Regions from separate parts of the Homo sapiens genome. Here region 1 is linked to region 2. The links come from fine-mapping of genetic effects on gene expression. Tissue or cell type: whole blood. Region 2 holds a variant in brackets; the other region holds the start of a gene. All regions are shown on one strand. Distances are between the middles of the regions.

The links. PIP is the estimated chance that this variant, and not a neighbour inherited with it, causes the effect.
Region 1: it holds the start of HSDL2, and the variant in region 2 is fine-mapped to the expression of HSDL2 in whole blood (TOPMed, PIP above 0.99).

What each region holds. Positions count from the first base shown.
Region 1 is chr9:112,375,808-112,383,959 of GRCh38, reverse strand. It overlaps HSDL2 (hydroxysteroid dehydrogenase like 2), which reads right to left and starts at 3,852. Exons shown (of 11, transcript NM_032303.5): 1 at 3,780-3,852. The coding sequence starts at 3,796. It also overlaps a transcript of PTBP3 not described here. RefSeq lists a silencer at 3,649-3,898 and enhancers at 4,119-4,238, 3,670-4,269, 4,269-4,518, 4,619-4,668.
Region 2 is chr9:112,402,671-112,410,871 of GRCh38, reverse strand. It overlaps HSDL2 (hydroxysteroid dehydrogenase like 2), which reads right to left. Exons shown (of 11, transcript NM_032303.5): 2 at 6,714-6,877; 3 at 5,150-5,248; 4 at 1,851-1,965. Among named protein-coding and RNA genes, the nearest start is that of HSDL2, 27 kb to the right of the region's middle. The variant AC/C (reference allele first, on the strand shown) is at 4,455.

The sequences.
Region 1 (8,152 bases), 27 kb after region 2:
GGGGCTGAGGCAGGAGGATCACTTGAGCCCAGGAGTTTGAGACCAGCCTGGGCAACAAAGTGAGACTCCTCTACAAAAAAATTTTTTAAAAATAGCCAGGCATTATGGCGCATGTCTATAGTCCCACCTAATTGGGAAGATGAGCTGGGAGGACTGCTTAACCCCAGGAGATCAAGGCTGCAGTGAACTATGATGGTGCCAATGCACCCCAGCCTGGGTGACAGAGCGAGGCCCTGTCTCAATTAATTAATTAAGTAAACAGTCTGGTACTGGTACATGAATAGAGACTAAAGTAGCAGAGCAGAAAGTCCAGAAACAGAGCGCTATATGTGCAAGAATTTAATATACAACAGAGGTAGAATTTCGAGCAGAAGAGAAAAGATTAACTCTTAGGTCAATGCTGCTAGGACAAATGAGCAGCCATCTGAAGAAAAATCAAGTGGGCTTCCTAACTCACTTCCTGAAAGAAATCTCAGGGGGATAAAAAAATCTGACTATAAAAAATATAGACAATACAAATATATTTGAAAAATACAAAAATATAAGACCATAAAAATATCAGAAGAAAACTAATTATAAAAAGATCTGCCCAGGCACGGTGGCTCACACCTGTAATCCCAGCATGTTGGGATGCCGAGTCAGGAGGATTACTTGAGGTCAGGAGTTTGAGACCAGCCTGGCCAACATGGTGAAACTCCATCTCTACTAAAATTACAAAAATTAGCCGGCATGGTGGTGTGCGCCTGTAATCCCAGCTACTTGTGAGGCTAAGGCAGGAGAACCACTTAAACCTGGGAGGCAGAGGTTGCAGTGAAACGAGATCGCACCACTGCACTCAAGCCTGGGCAACAGAGCAAGATTCCATCTCAAAAAAAGAAAGACAGAAAGAAAGATCTCGGTTTAACTCAAAGGCATACAGAGCAAGATTCCATCTCAAAAAAAAGAAAGACAGAAAGAAAGATCTCGGTTTAACTCAAAGGCTTACAGAGCAAGACTCCATCTCAAAAAAAAAAAAAAAGATCTTGGTTTAACTCAAAAATGCAAAAGCCTTAAGAGACTGATAACTCTGGCTTCACAAAAACATGTTTCTCCATGTTAAATAAACAGTATAATCAAAGTCCAGATGCAACATGAAAAACTGTGGAAAATATTTGTAATGTGATAAAAGACAAATTTTTAAAATACACAGAGCCCTCAGAGATTAACGAAAAACCTCATTTGTTAAGCCAGACAAATATAAAGATACATAGATGGCTTTAAACCAGGGTTTCTCAACCTCTGCACTACTGACCTTTTGGACTACATAATTCTTTGTTGTACGGAATGCTTGTGAATTGTAGGATGTGCACCAGCATCCCTGTACTCTACTCACGAGATGCCATTAGCATCTCCATTCAATTGTGACTATCAAAAATGTCTTGAGATATTACCAAATGTCCTCTGGGGATCAAATTGTCCCTGGTTTAAATACACAAAGAGATCCAAATCCACACTTGTGATAAAATAAATGCAAATTTTAACAATAATGAGGTGACACTTTTTTCTCTAATTAGATTTTCATCATTAACTATTTTGCGGTTAGCCAACAAGTGGGATTAGAGGATCTCATTTATCCTTTTGGGTGTGCAACCCTTCTGGGGGGTCATCTGGAAATATCTGTCAAAATATAAAGTGCATTTCCTCTTTTTTCTTTTTGAGACAGACTCTCACTCTCTCTCGCAGGGTGGAGGGCAGGGCAGTGGCATGATCTCGGCTCACTGCCACCTCCGCCTCCAGGTTCAAGCGGTTCTCCTGCCTCAGCCTCCTGAGTAGCTGGGATTACAGGTGCCCGCTACCAGGTCCAGCTAATTTTTGTATTTGTAATTTTTGTAATTTTGTAGTTTTAGTGGAGACGGAGTTTCACCACGTTGGCCAGGCTGGTCTCGAACTCTTGACCTCCAGTGATCCGCCCGCCTCGGCCTCCCAAAGTGCTGGGACTACAGGCGTGAGCCACTGTGCCCAGCCACATTTACTCTTTGATCCAGCAATTTCACTTCCAGGAGTTTATCCTACATATACACTTATATATGTGCAAATAGATAAATACAAGTATAATTATGGAAGCAAAAAAAGAGTATCCAAAAAACTGGAAACAGTCTAGTATCCAACAATAGGGAACAGGTTAAATAAACAAAGGTATATTCATATACAGGTTGAGCAAACCAAATCTGAAAATCTGAAATCCGAACACGTCTGGAACCAAGCATTTTGGATAATGGATACTCAAGCTGTTACAGAATATTATGCAACCATTAAAAAGGAGGAGGGGCCAGGCGCAGTGGCTTACGCCTGTAATCCCAGCACTTTGGGAGGCCGAGGCAGACGGATCACGAGGTCATGAGATTGAGACCATCCTGGCTAACATGGTGAAACCCCGTCTGTACTAAAAATACAAAAAAATCAACAGGGCGTGGTGGCACGCGCCTGAAGTCCCAGCTACTCGGGAGGCTGAGGCAGGAGAATTGCGGGAGGCGGAGGCTGCAGTGAGCCGAGATCATGCCACTGCACTCCAGACTGGAAGACAGAGCGAGACTCCATCTCAAAAGAAAAAAAAAGGAGGCGGAAGATCTGCCATGTACTAAAAATGTATGTCCCTGGGCACAGCGGTGCATGCCTGTAATCCTAAATACTCCAGAGGCTAAGAAGGGAGGAACATCAGCCTGGGAGTTCAAGGCTACAGGCCAGTCTGGGCAACATGGGAGACCCCGTCTTTAAAAAAAACAAAGAAAGAATGTCCCAAGACATACCAACTAAAAGTAGCAAGACCAAGAATAGAGTCTGCTGCTATTTTTAAGAAAGGGTATGTGTGTGTGTGTGTGTGTGTGTGTGTGTATCCGGATGTATACAAATTATGTTCATACATGCACGAAATAGAAACGTAAGTAACTGGGGAACTAGATTTTAGGGATGGGGAGACTCACTTTTTACCCTATACTCTTTGAACTGTTTTAAGTCTTTGGCTATATGCCTGCATGTTTCAGGCAAATTACAAAATCTGACAACACGTCACTCAACTCAAGATACCCAGACCTTACATAAACCAGAAAGTAGAATGGTGGTTGCCAATGTACGAGCGGAGGTGGGGAAGAGGAGTTGTTTCATGGATAGAGTTTCAGCTTGCAGATGAAAAAAGTTCTGGAGATTGACTGCACAACGATATGAATCTACTTAACACTACTGAAGTGTACACTTAAAAAACGGTTAAGATGGCAGATTTTGTACGTATTTTAACACAATTTTTTAAGGTGAAAAAAAAATCCCCCAAAGATACCCATGTTTTAAGATCGGTTTAGTTTCTAATTTGGAAATCATTTTTTAAACACTCCATTATTACTCTAGAATTGAGCGTCAGGAACAAGTGAAAACTCTTTAAACTCTGGAGCTGCTCCTGCGACCTTTCACCTAGAACTCACACGCATTCGGCCAGGCACGCACTCCTGCTAAACTCAGGGAGGGCCGGCACTGGGGGCGGCGTGGTGACTCCCCCTCGGCCCTTTACCCGTGGAAAAGGTTTCTACACTGCTGCCATCCTGTAATACAAAAGTTTGTGTTCCTTTTCACACGTTACCGCAGATTCTCGGTGCACAGTGCCCAGCGCGGACCAGAGCTCAGAGCGTGCCCAGGCAGTATCCTTGACCTCCCACAGCCGGGCCGGCCAGCCCGGGCGATCCGCGGCGGCCCCACCGAGACGCGCCCTTCGCCCGACAGGGTCTCTCCCCGCGCCGCCCCTACCCCCTTACCCGGTGTTGGGTAACATGACTTTCGTAGATCAGAGGAGGTGGCGGCGACAGCGGCGGCGGCGAGCAGAGAGCTAAAGCTGGACCGTCCCTCCGCATTTATCCCCGCCCCTGCCCCGCCCCTGCCCCCCCCGATGCCTGTGCGGGAACTGCGCGCGGAAAAGCCGGGATCGCCGAGTGCGCCTGCGTATGCAGTGGGCCTCCTGCGCCCAGCGTTCCTCTTCGTCGCCTCCCAAGCCTGGTCCCTGATTGCAGGCTCTCCGCGCAGGCGCTTTGAGGCACAGCTCCGCCCCGCCCCCTCACTGGTCGTACGGTGACAATCAGGCTCCTGTCGGCGCCTAGCGTCTGGGCAGCGTCAGCCGCTACGTCCACCTTTTCCCTGTCTCTAGGGGTTTCTCCTCGCGCCGCTGTGTTCCAGCGCCGGCTCCGAGCTGGGAGGGTGACTGAGCCCTGAGCTTGGGCCCTCCGAGAGGTGCGTTAGCTCTGGGTCTTCTTGCCCCTACGCCCGAGCCTGGCGTTCTCTCGGCCCCCTCTTAGGAACGCTAGCCCTGGGCAGAAATTGCCTTTGTGGCTGAAGTCGGCCAGCGTCGCGTTTCCACTCTCCCGCCGAATCTGGACCCAAGCCAGCCTTCCCTTGTGCATCGGTAGATAGCTTGTGTTAAGGCGCCAGCTTCTTGGAACAGAGCTCTCTGCAAAAGTCGCGCTGAAGAATTCATAGTCAAAAGCTGAACTTGCAGAAGTTTCTACTTCTGGAATGAGTGTTGAAATGAGATCAATTCTGACATTCAGTTTCGCTTTTGGGATTATGCCTTGGACTAACTCAGCTACTCTGATGAGCTAAAGACTGTAGTATATTTGAAGGAAGACACGAGGAACTGTTTTGTATTTTGTAGGGATAGAACAGGACCTTGAGGAGATTATTATATGAAGACTAGTTAAAGAAACTAGCCTGGAGATGGCTTATGTACTCTCTCCTTTGTTTTTGTTTTGTTTTTTGAGACGGAGTCTCGCTGTCGCCCACGCTGAAGTGCAGTGGCGCGGATCTCGGCTCATTGTAACCTCCGCCTCCCGGGTTCAAGTGATTCTCCTCCCTCAGCCTCCGGAGTAGCTGGGACTACAGGCATGCATCACCACGCCTGGCTAATTTTTTTGTGTTTTTAGTAGAGACGGGGTTTCGCCATGTTGGGCTGGCTGGTCTCGAGCTCCTGACCTCAAATGATTGGCCCGCCTCGGCCTTCCAAAGTGCTGGGATTACAGGCGTGAGCCTCCGCGCCCGGCCTCTCTCCCCTTTGTTATGGGCCCTAAATGACTCTATTTCCTCCTGCATATCACCTGCCCGACTCCTGTAGGCATTTGAATTGATGATTCATGATACGGTCTTTAGAGGCTCCAGAGGAATTTGCAAATTATTATCATCCACTAAGTGATTGCTGATTACCTGAGATACAGCAGCTCAAAAAGGACAAGGTCTCTGCCTATGGGAGGTATGAGTAGCCAGTGTGTTCTTTAGACTGTTGTTAAGCATTAGGTGTTTTAAGAAGAGTGTTGATAGAGACTGTTAGATGAAAATAACTTACTCTCCTCTCATCCTTAGGAGCACTTGCTGAAGCGTGTATATATCTGTCGAATAGAGTGAATTCTTAGTAACGGGGTGACATTTCCTTCATATCATCTAAAATGTTCTCTCCTTTTTGAAAGCCACAATATCTTCAGTCTGTTAGAGCCTCCTTTCTTGAATTTGTGTGCTTCTATTTCCATTTGTTACGGAAAGAGAGCTCAACGAAGAGGCAAAGCAAACAAAAAACCTTTGCCAATTTTTCAGTCATAACGATATTTTGTGAGCCTAAATACCTGTACTTACACTATTTTTATACTTTGCGATGGCTTTCACAGAAGGCAAATATATTCCTAAATTATTAGAGGTAGTTTTACCAAGCAAGTTTAAATCCATTGTATTCAGTACTTTGACTAGAGTTCATTTAAAGTGTGATTTGGAGTTACCCATGACCTTCTACCCCATTACCTTGATTAACCTAGTGTTAGATTAATGCTAGAGGTGAGGAATGGGTGAAGGAGAGGACTTGTGAACATAATTAGATCTTCATTTTGGAAGGTGAATAATTTTGGCTTAGAACACTTCTGACTGCAGCATGAAGAATAGTTTGTGAGTAGATAAAGGCACAGAAGCCATTTAAAAGCCCATAGTAATGTAATGTGTAAGAAAAGTAGTAACCTGAACTAAGGCAGTAATAGTAGAAATGAAAAGACATACTCAAGATATGGAACCTGGCAGATGTAACTAATGATTAGATGTAGGAGCAAAGGGGGAAGATGGTATCAGTGGTGACCTTCAGATTTCTGGTGTAAAGTCCTGGGAGGATGGTGATAACACAGTAAAGAAGTGAAAACAAATGGTTTGAAAAATAGATGTCTTGAAAGTCAGGTAAGTCTCACTCATTTCACCCCTTCTCAGCTTGATAAAACTACCTAAAAATGCAACAGTTTCCTGACAGACTACTGGTTACAACACATTCTCCCAACCAATTTATATCCCTTAAGTTTTGGTTATATGCAACATTAATGTAATTTGGCTAATTTAAACCAAATTAAAGGGGTTGGAGAATTTAGAAGAATTCTGGGATAGTTTATATAACTTAAGGAAGAGCTGAACAACTAAGCTTGACAATGGGAACTAAGGTGCTTCCATGATCCTCAGCAGCATGATCTTTCTAGAATGCATTGTAGGTGGCTTCCCTGTCTTTTCTGTGTATCTGTTCAAGCTTCAAATACTAAGACAGTCTAGTACAATGTGTTTCGTTTTGTTTTGTTTTTTTGAGATAAGATCTTGCTCTGTCACCCAGGCTGGAGTGTAGCAGCATGATCATGGCTCACTGTAGCCTCAACCTCCTGGGCTCAGCCACCCAAGTAGCCAGGACCACGGGCATGTGCCACCACACCTGGCTAATTTTACTTTTTATAGACACAGGGGTCTCACTATGTTGCCCAGGTTGGTCTTGAACTCCTCACCTCAAGCAATCCTCCCACCACACAGCCTTCCAAGGTGCTGGGAAATGTTTCAACCTGTAAATTAGTTGGCCATGGCCAGGGACACAAGTGGATATGGACAATGGGGAAGTAACACAACATTGCATACCTACCTACCCCAGGTCATGGAAGTTGCGTAAATGTAGAGCAAGTAAATTGGCATTCATAATTCTGGGAAGAAAGGGGTCATAAAACTTTTTATTTCATAGGGCTTGTGATGGTTAATACTGAGTGTCAACTTGATGGTATTGAAGGATGCAAAGTATTGGTCTTGGGTGTATCTGTGAGGGTATTGCCAAAGGACATTAACATTTGAGTCAGTGGGCTGGGAAGGGCAGACCCACCCTTAATCTGAGTGGGTACCATCTAATCAGCTGCCAGTGAATATAAGACAGGCAGAAAAACCTGAAAAGATGAGACTGGCCTAGCCTCCCAGCCTACATCCTTCTCCTGTGCGTTTATCCCCTTCTTGCCCTCCAACATCAGACTCCAGGTTCAGTTTCGGGACTTGGACTGGCTCTCCTTGCACCTCAGCTTGCAGATGGCCTATTATGGGACCTTGTGATCATGTGAGTTAATACTTAATAGGCTGGGCGCGGTGGCTTATGCCTGTAATCCCAGCACTTTGGGAGGCCGAGGCAGGCGGATCACAAGGTCAAGAGATGGAGACCATCCTGGCCAACGTGGTGAAACCCCATCTCTACTAAAAATACAAAAAGTAGCTGGGCGTGGTAGCACACACCTGTAGTCCCAGCTACTCGGGAGGCTAAGGCAGGAGAATCGCTTGAACCTGGGAGGCGGAGGTTGCAGTGAGCGGAGACCACGCCACTGCACTCCAGCCTGGTGACAGACCGAGACTCTTTCTCAAAAAAAAAAAAAAAAAAAACTTAATAAACTCCCCTACACACACACACACACACACACACACACACACACACACGTATATAAGGAAGTAATAGGATATATATATATATATATATATCCTCTAGAGAACCCTGACTAATACGGATTTTGGTACCAGAAGTAGGGTCCAGAACAGGAGAAGGCTCTGCAACAGGTCCAGGCTGCTGTGCAAGCTGTTCTGCCACTTGGGCCATATGACCCAGCAGATCCAATAGTGCTTGAGGGATGAGTGGCAGATAGGGATGCTATTTGGAGCCTTTGCCAGGCCACCATAAATGAATCACAGTGGAGGCCTCTAGGATTTTGGAGCAAGACCCTGCCTTCTTCTGCAGATAACTACTCTCCTTTTGAGAGACAGCTCTTAGCCTGTTACTGGGCTTTGGTGGAAACTGAACGTTTGACTATGGGTCATTAAGTCACCATGTGAC
Region 2 (8,201 bases):
CAGCAACGTCCACCTCCCAGATTCAGACAATCCCCCCACTTCAGCTTCCTAAGTAGCTGGGACTACAGGCACGTGTGCCACCATCCCCAGCTAATTTTTCTATTTTTTGTAGAGACAGGGTTTTGCCATGTTGTCTAGGCTGGTTTCGAACTCCTGGGCTCAAGTGACCCGCCTGGCTCAGCCTCCCAAAGTGCTGGGATTACAAGCATGAGCCGCCATGCCTGGCCCTAACTAATAAAACTTTGAATGTAGGTAACTAATGAAAACAATTTTGTTTTAACACTGTCTGGGCCAAGTTTTGCAGACCCAACAAAACATACCTGAGGGAAAAATTCAGGACTCTAACTTAATAACTTAGACATTTAACCCTCGTGACCAACCCTATAACATATTACTGTATTATTGCCATTTTAAAAGTAAAGAAACTGAATCTGCAAGAAGTTAAGTTACTTGTCCAAGGTCACAAAATAGAAAGTCATGAGGGGTGAGTGTTAAGATTTGAATCCAAGCAGTCTTACTCCAGAGCCTAAGCTCCTAACCACCTATTCTGTGTGTTAACAAGATACATGTAAGGTACAGAAGCAAGTTCTAACCTGATGTATCCTGATATCCACATGGAAAATATAGAACCAGAGGGTAAATAAACAGATAAATAAATGGACAATAAGACAGGTTGTCTGATGAATCCAGAACAGATCAAGACTATGTTCTTTCATTCGATAGTCTACATTTCCCCGGCAAAGCCCAAGAAAGTATTAGTGTTTTTATTGGTTACAATAAAGTGTGATTCATAATGAGAATGACCTTACTGTTATTTAAATAACTAAAACCTACGTCTTTTTTTTTTTTTAACGCCAGGTCTTTTTCAGAGGAAGGAGACTATTGCTGGCTTCAGTAATCCTAAATAGTCCTATGAAAGGACTGTGTCCTATGAAAGACAGAGTATACATGTAAGTATTTACACATGCAAATATTTGAGAAAATGCTTGAGCTACACTTTAGTCTTTTTTTTTTTTCTTTGGAGACAGTCTTTCTCTGTTACCCAGGCTGGAGTGCAGTGGCATGATCACAGCTCATTGTAGCCTCAAACTCCTGGGCTCAAGGGATCCTCTTGCCTCAGTCTCCTGAGTAGATGAGACCACCACCACAGTCTCAGTAGCACACAAACCACTATGCCTGCCTGATTTTAAAAACTTTTTTTTGTAGAGACAGCGTCTTGCCATCTTGTGCATCTCAGTCTCAATCTCCTGGCCTCCAATAATACTCCCCTCACCCAAAGTGCTGAAATTACAGGTGTGAGCCACTGCACTCAGCCTACTTTAGTCTTTCCTAAATTCATAGAGAAAAGGAGCTCCAAATAAAGCTATTTAAAATACTATCGGGCTGGGCATGGTGGCTCATGCCTGTAATCCCAGCACTTTGGGAGGCCAAGGTGGGTGGATCACCTGAGGTAAGGAGTTTGAGACCAGCCTGGCCAACATGGTAAAACCCTGTCTCTACTAAAAATACAAAAAATCAACTGGGCATGGTGGTGGGCGCCTGTAATCCCAGCTACTCAGGAGGCTGAGGCAGGAGAATCGCTTGAACCTAGGAGGCAAAGGTTGCAGTGAGCTGAGATCGTGCCACTGCACTCCAGCCTGGGCAACAAGAATGAAACTCCATCTCAAAAAAATAAATAAATAAAAAATAAAATAAAATACTATTGACTGAATGAAGGACTTTTAGACCCTTATAAGGATTGACTAGATTTTGAACTACACTGTTAATTTGGCTCAAATCTGTTTACAACTATGTAAGTTCCCTGAGAAACACCGCAACTTCCTCCCCAACAACTCTTCTTGCAAACTTACGCAAGGTAGGTGCCTCTGGTGTTCACGTTCATCATCAGATCCAATCTCTTGGTAGGTGTGTCCAATGTATTGGTCAAACTAATGGCACTGGCATTATTTACCAGAATATCAATTCCTGTTTTCAAAATAATCAATTTCATTTTAATGAAAGACTTTTTATCACACACAAAAAAAGCGTTTACTCTCTTGAACCCTCAGTTGATTCACAAATACAGTCATGTACCACACCTAACATTTCAATCAACAATGGCCCATATACGCAACATGGTCCCTTAAGATTACAATACTGTTTTTTTATTTTATCTCTTTTCTGTCTAAGTTTGTTCAGATACATACTTACTGTTGTGTTACAAACGCCTACAGTAGTCAGTACAGTAACATGTTATACAGCTTTACAGCCTGGAAGCAATAGGCTATGCCATACAGCCTAGGTATGTGGTCAGCTAGACTATCTATGTTTGTGTAAGTATACTCTATGTTCATACGATCATAAAATCACCTAATAATGCCTTTCTCAGAACATATCCCCATCATTAAGCAATGCATGGCTATACTTCCTTTAGATAATATGACTAACCACTACCAATGCAAGACTGGTAGCTATTTCAAAATAGCACCTGCATGATTGTCACTAGCACAGTGGAGATATAGCCAATTGCCAGAGCTCCATGTGAAACTACAAGGAGGCTTAGTCTTCGGTGGTTTGTAGCTTCCACTCTTAACTGTTCTCTTACCTCCTGGTTGTCCCTCCCTGTCTCCATAAACCTTGGATCAAATTCCTTAAAGTCTTTCTTCCTCTCTAGCATGAAGTTTCAAAGGCCTGTCCTCCCTCCAAGCATAGTAGTCTCCCTTCCCCCAAGGCCCCTCACTTAAAGGGAAAGGCTCCTTTCTGGTCTTGAGAACTGGGAAAAGAGAAAGACCTACTGTTTCAATCCCAGGCAGATCATCAAAGTGGATCAATTTTGTTTTAGTGACTCATACACACACACAAAAAATAAACCTAGAGTAACTACTATTTCTGCAAATTCTATCTAGTTTCTACCTATAACCAACAAGTTTTGCTTATAGTTATATGCTTAGTGAAATAACATTAAAGGAAAATGGTAAAAATACAAAAACTATGTCAAACATTTTTTCTTTGTTTCTACCTGGTCTTCATTATTCTTTGTGAAGTGTACTTAATGATGGTTGTGTAACAATATAATAAACTTCAATGTCACTGAACTGTACACTTAAAAATAGGATGGTAAATTTTATGTTATGTGTATTTTACCACAATTTTAAAAAATTAAATAATAAATTCAAGGCTGGGGACAGTGGCTCATGCTTGTAACCCCAGCACTTTGAGAAGTTGAGGTGGGTGGATCCCTTGAGGTCAGGAGTTTGAGACCAGCCTGGCCAACATGGTGAAACCCCATCTCTACTAAAAACACAAAAATTAGCTAGGCCTGGTGGTGGGCACCTATAGTCCCAGCTTCTTGGGAGGCTGGGGTTGGAGGATCACCTGAGCCCAGGAGGCCAAAGCTGTGGTGAGCCACGATCATGCCACTACATACCAGTCTGGGTGACAGAGTGAGACCCTGTTTCAAAGAAGAAAAAAAAAAGAACTAAAACTGAATGAATATGGGAGAATGAAAAGCTTCAGCTTTCTCCCCTTACGTCCTCTCCAAAAATTAGTGGATAAACTAATTACATCAAATCCTAAGTGGCACTAGTTAACCACTTTTACTACTAGGTGAAGTCATTTTAGATAAAATATCCTGCATTTGAGCGTGGCACATTTCACATTTAGCGCCCTATCAGTTGGACAAACATCATTTTGCATTTTCTCTCCTCTTCTGACACAGGCATTCACATTTCTTTGGGAAAGGCTGCCGGCTAGGGGTAAGATTTTGGATTTAAGGGAAGAGGCTCCACTTGAGCCAAAGCTCCGTGCTTCAGTCCAGCACCCCACAGCACTCTGCATTGGGATTATAAGTACAGCCTTGCTAACACTGAAGCATTCCCTCATTTTCCACTGGCCATTGTCCCTCACATGTACATATGGTCCTCCAGAACATTAGCGGGGAGAGTGGTAATGGTTTAGGCAGGATTTGGACATGCCTAGGTGCCCTACTATAATACCATGAAAGCCTTAGCTCAATCCCCAACACCTTTTTTCTAGGAACTTTTGAACTAATTGGGGAGAAAAGAAATACTAAGATCTAAAATAGTACAAGATAAGGATCAAATGAATGTTTTAAGAAATCAGAGAGGCCGGGCACGGTGGCTCACGCCTGTAATCCCAGCACTTTGGGAGGCTGAGTTGGGTGGATCATGAAGTCAGGAGTTCGAGACCAGCCTGGCCAATGTGGCGAAACCTGTCTCTACTAAATATACAAAAATTAGCTGGGCATGGTGGCAGGCGCCTGTAATCCCAGCTACTCGGGAGGCTGAGGCAGGAGAATCGCTTGAACCCAGGAGGCAGAGGTTGCAGTGAGCCGAGATTGCGCCACTGCACTCCAGCCTGGGTGACAAGAGCAAGACTCAGTCTCAAAAAAAAAGAAAAAAGAAATCAGAGAAAGAAAAATATAATTCTGATTAGTTGGCATGGTGAGGGAACTG[AC/C]TTTGTGAAGAAGATGAAATTTAACCACATAAAGGAAGAATTTTTTCAAAAACAAATATATAAGGCACAAGTGCAATTTTCTCACATACATAGATTGTGCAGTGTCCAGGACTTTTAGGGTATCCATCACCCAAACAGCAAACATTGTACCGATTAAGTAATTTCTCTTCATCTACCCCCCTTGCATCCCTTCTTTCTTCCCAGTCTCCACAGTCTATCATTCCACACTCTTTTTCTTTTTTTTTTTTTTCTTTTTGAGACAGAGTCTTGCTCTGTCACCCAGGCTGGAATGCAGTGGTGCAATCTCAGCTCACTGCAACCTCCACCTCCCAGGTTCAAGCAATTCTTCCACCTCAGCCTCCTGAGTAGCTGGGATTACAGGCATCCACCACCATGTTCAGCTAATTTTTGTATTTTTAGTAGAGACGGGGTTTCACCATGTTGGCCAGGCTGGTCTTAAACTCCTGACCTCAAGTGATCTGCCTGCCTCGGCCTCCCAAAGTGCTGGGATTACAGGTGTGAGCCACCACGCCCAGCCTTATCAGATGGTTTTAAATCATGTTCTGTGTGAGCAAATACGTATTTCTCCAAAGACTCAGAAAATTCAAAACTCAAAACAAATTTTTAAATTAACATTATAGTTATACCTTTATTTTACCAATATCCAATAATTTTTTCAGAATGAAGGTATTACCTCCAAATTTCTTGATGGCTTTCTCCACTGCAGCACTGATCTGCTGTTCATCTCTCACATCAACAATACATGGCAAGGCCTTTCCTCCAACTGCTTCAACTTATATAAAGGATACAAAATGAAAAAGCGTTAAAGCATTTAAATATTATACCTTTAATTCCAATATCACAGTCAAAAGAAAAAAGTACCCTGTTTTCAGAAAATCAATATAAATAACTCTATCTTACCACCAGTGACTCTACCATATAGCAGGACAGACTAGCTAGGCTAACACTATTAAAAAACAAAAACGAAGGTTTGGTGGGGGTTTCTTTGTAATTTTTTTAAAAAGCTAAAAAAAGGAAGTTTTTTGTTTGTTTGTTTTTGTTTTTCAGACAGGGTCTCACTCTCTTGCCCAGGCTTGGGTGAAGTGGCACAAACACAGCTCACTGCAGCCTCAATCTCCCAGGCTCAAAGGATCCTCCCACCTCAGCTTCCCAAGTAGCTGGGACTATAGGCATGCACCACCACGCCAGGCTAATTTTTCTATTTTTTGTAGAGACACGGTTTTGCCATGTTGGTCAGGCTGGTCTCGCACTCCTGACCTCAAGTGATCCACCCGCCTTGGCCTCCCAAAGTGCTGGGATTACAGGCTTGAGCCACCTCACCCAGTTGAAAGTAATTTTTAAAAACTTTTTATTGTGGAAATATTCTAAACTATATAAAAATGTAAAGATGCTGTAATAAACTAACAGGAATCCATCACCTATCTTCAACGATTGTTAGTTTTGTCAGTTAATATGTTTATCTTTCCTGTCCCCTGTTTTATTTTTTGCTGGTGTGTTTTAAAGCAAATCCCTGACATCATTTCACTCATAAACACTTCACATGCATTCCTCTAACATAACCACAGTGCTCTGAACATGATTAACAAAACTAGCAATGTCAACTGAACTTGAATTTTTAAGCCCTCTCTCCTGGCTCTGTGCCTAGCGCTATGCCTTAAATAGAAGTATGTGATAATTATTTGTCAACTAAAAGTATTAAAATGATGACTTGCAAATTGTACAGAGAATAAATAACACAGAACGCTTTCTCAAAGAGTTCATGCCACTCACCAATCAAATTCTCTCCTCTCTACTCCACTTCCCTACTCCCCCTCCCATCCAAGAACCACTGCCCTCAAGAACCAAGATTTTTTTTTTTTTAAGAGATGGAGTCTCGCTCTGTCACCCAAGCTGGAGTGCTGTGGCATGATCTTGGCTCACTGCAACCTCCACCTCCCAGGTTCAAGTGATTCTCCTGCCTCAGCCTCCCGAGTAGCTGGGTGAAATTACAGGTGTGAGTCACCACGCCCCGCCATGAAATAAGATTTTTAACTGGAGTTTCTCACATTGCTTAAAAGTGCTGGTGGAGAAAAACGGTCAGAAGCACTGCCCCAAGGTGACAACATAAATACTTCTTTCACTAGATAAAATTATGTTCAGGGTAGCTTTCAAATAGCTTTAACTAAACTCTCCAGCAAATTCTCTATGTATTGAAACCACTAGAAAGACATTTTATCAAATGGCACTGTCACACTCACTTTCTTCAGCAGCAGTATAGATTGTGCCTAGAAGTTTTGGATGTGGCTGGGCGGTCTTTGCAGCAATAACAATATTTGCTCCATCCTTTGCTGCTTTCAATGCAATAGCTTTGCCAATGCCACGGCTTGCACCTGTGATAAAAACTGTACATCCTGCCAGCCTCCTACAACAGAACAAATACGACCTTATTAGAAGACCCAATGTTTTATTTACTGACAGGTATCAGAACCTCATGCATATTTTCATAATATATGTTTCCTCCTCTGTGAAATTTTCTCTAAACCCTCCCCATGCCCATCTGATGGCAGATAACTCCACTATACTCCCATTGCACAATGACTGATAAATTATTTATGACAACTGCAGTTGGCCAGTCTTGCTGTGATTTAGCAAACAAAATCTGTTCAAATGCAAAGCAAATCTTCAAGAGAAATAAAGAATTATAAAACAAATTATATAAACATGCATTTTTTTCCCCACAGAAAACGTGTTAATAAAGCTTTTTTTTTTTGAGTGGTGGGATTATGAGCAAATTTTATCACATCCTTTATATTCTTTAATATTTTTCAAAGTTTCCACAATGACTACATACCACTTAAAATAAATTACCTAAAAGCAAATAATTGTTCAATGAATGCTCATAATAGCCAAGGTGGAAACAACTCAAACGTCCATCAGCTGATGAACGGATAAGCAGAATGTGGTGTAGCCACGCATACAATGAAATAATGTTCCGCAATAAAGTACTGCTATGAGCTACAACATGGATGAACCAAAAACATTCTGCTAAGAGGAAGAAACCAGTCATGAAGGACCACATATGATGCCATTTATATGAAATGTCCAGAATAGGCAAACCTATAGAGACAGAAAGATCAGAGGTTACCTAGAGCTGGGAGTGGGAGGGATTGGAGGCTGACAACGGAGGGTTGAGGGGTTTCCTTCTAGGATGATTAAAGGTTTTAAAATTGACTGTGGTGATGGTGGCACAACTCTGTGAATATATTAAAAGCCAATGAATTGCGTATTTTAAATGACTGCATAGTGGGGTACGTGAATCACATCTCAAAAGAGCTGTTAAATAAACAAACGCTCACAAATTGCTGCAGGTTGATCTGAAATATTCTGATTCAAATGTACTGATGGGTCCCTGTGCCCATTTCATTCTTTGTGTGTGTGTGTTTTGTGTGTGTGTGTGTGTTTTTTTTTCTTTTGAGACACAGTCTCGCTCTGTCGCCCAGGCTGGAGTACGGTGGTGCAATCTCAGCTCACTCAACCTCTGCCTCCCGGGTTCAAGCAATTCTCCTGCTTCAGCCTCAAACAATTCTCCTGCTTCAGCCTCCCAAGTAGCTGGGACTACAGGCGTGGGCCACCACGCCCAGCTAATTTTTGTATTTTTAGCAGAGACGTGATTTCACCATGTTGGCCAGGCTGGTCTCGAACTCCTGACCTCGTGATCCACCCGCCTTGGCCTCCCAAAGTGCTGG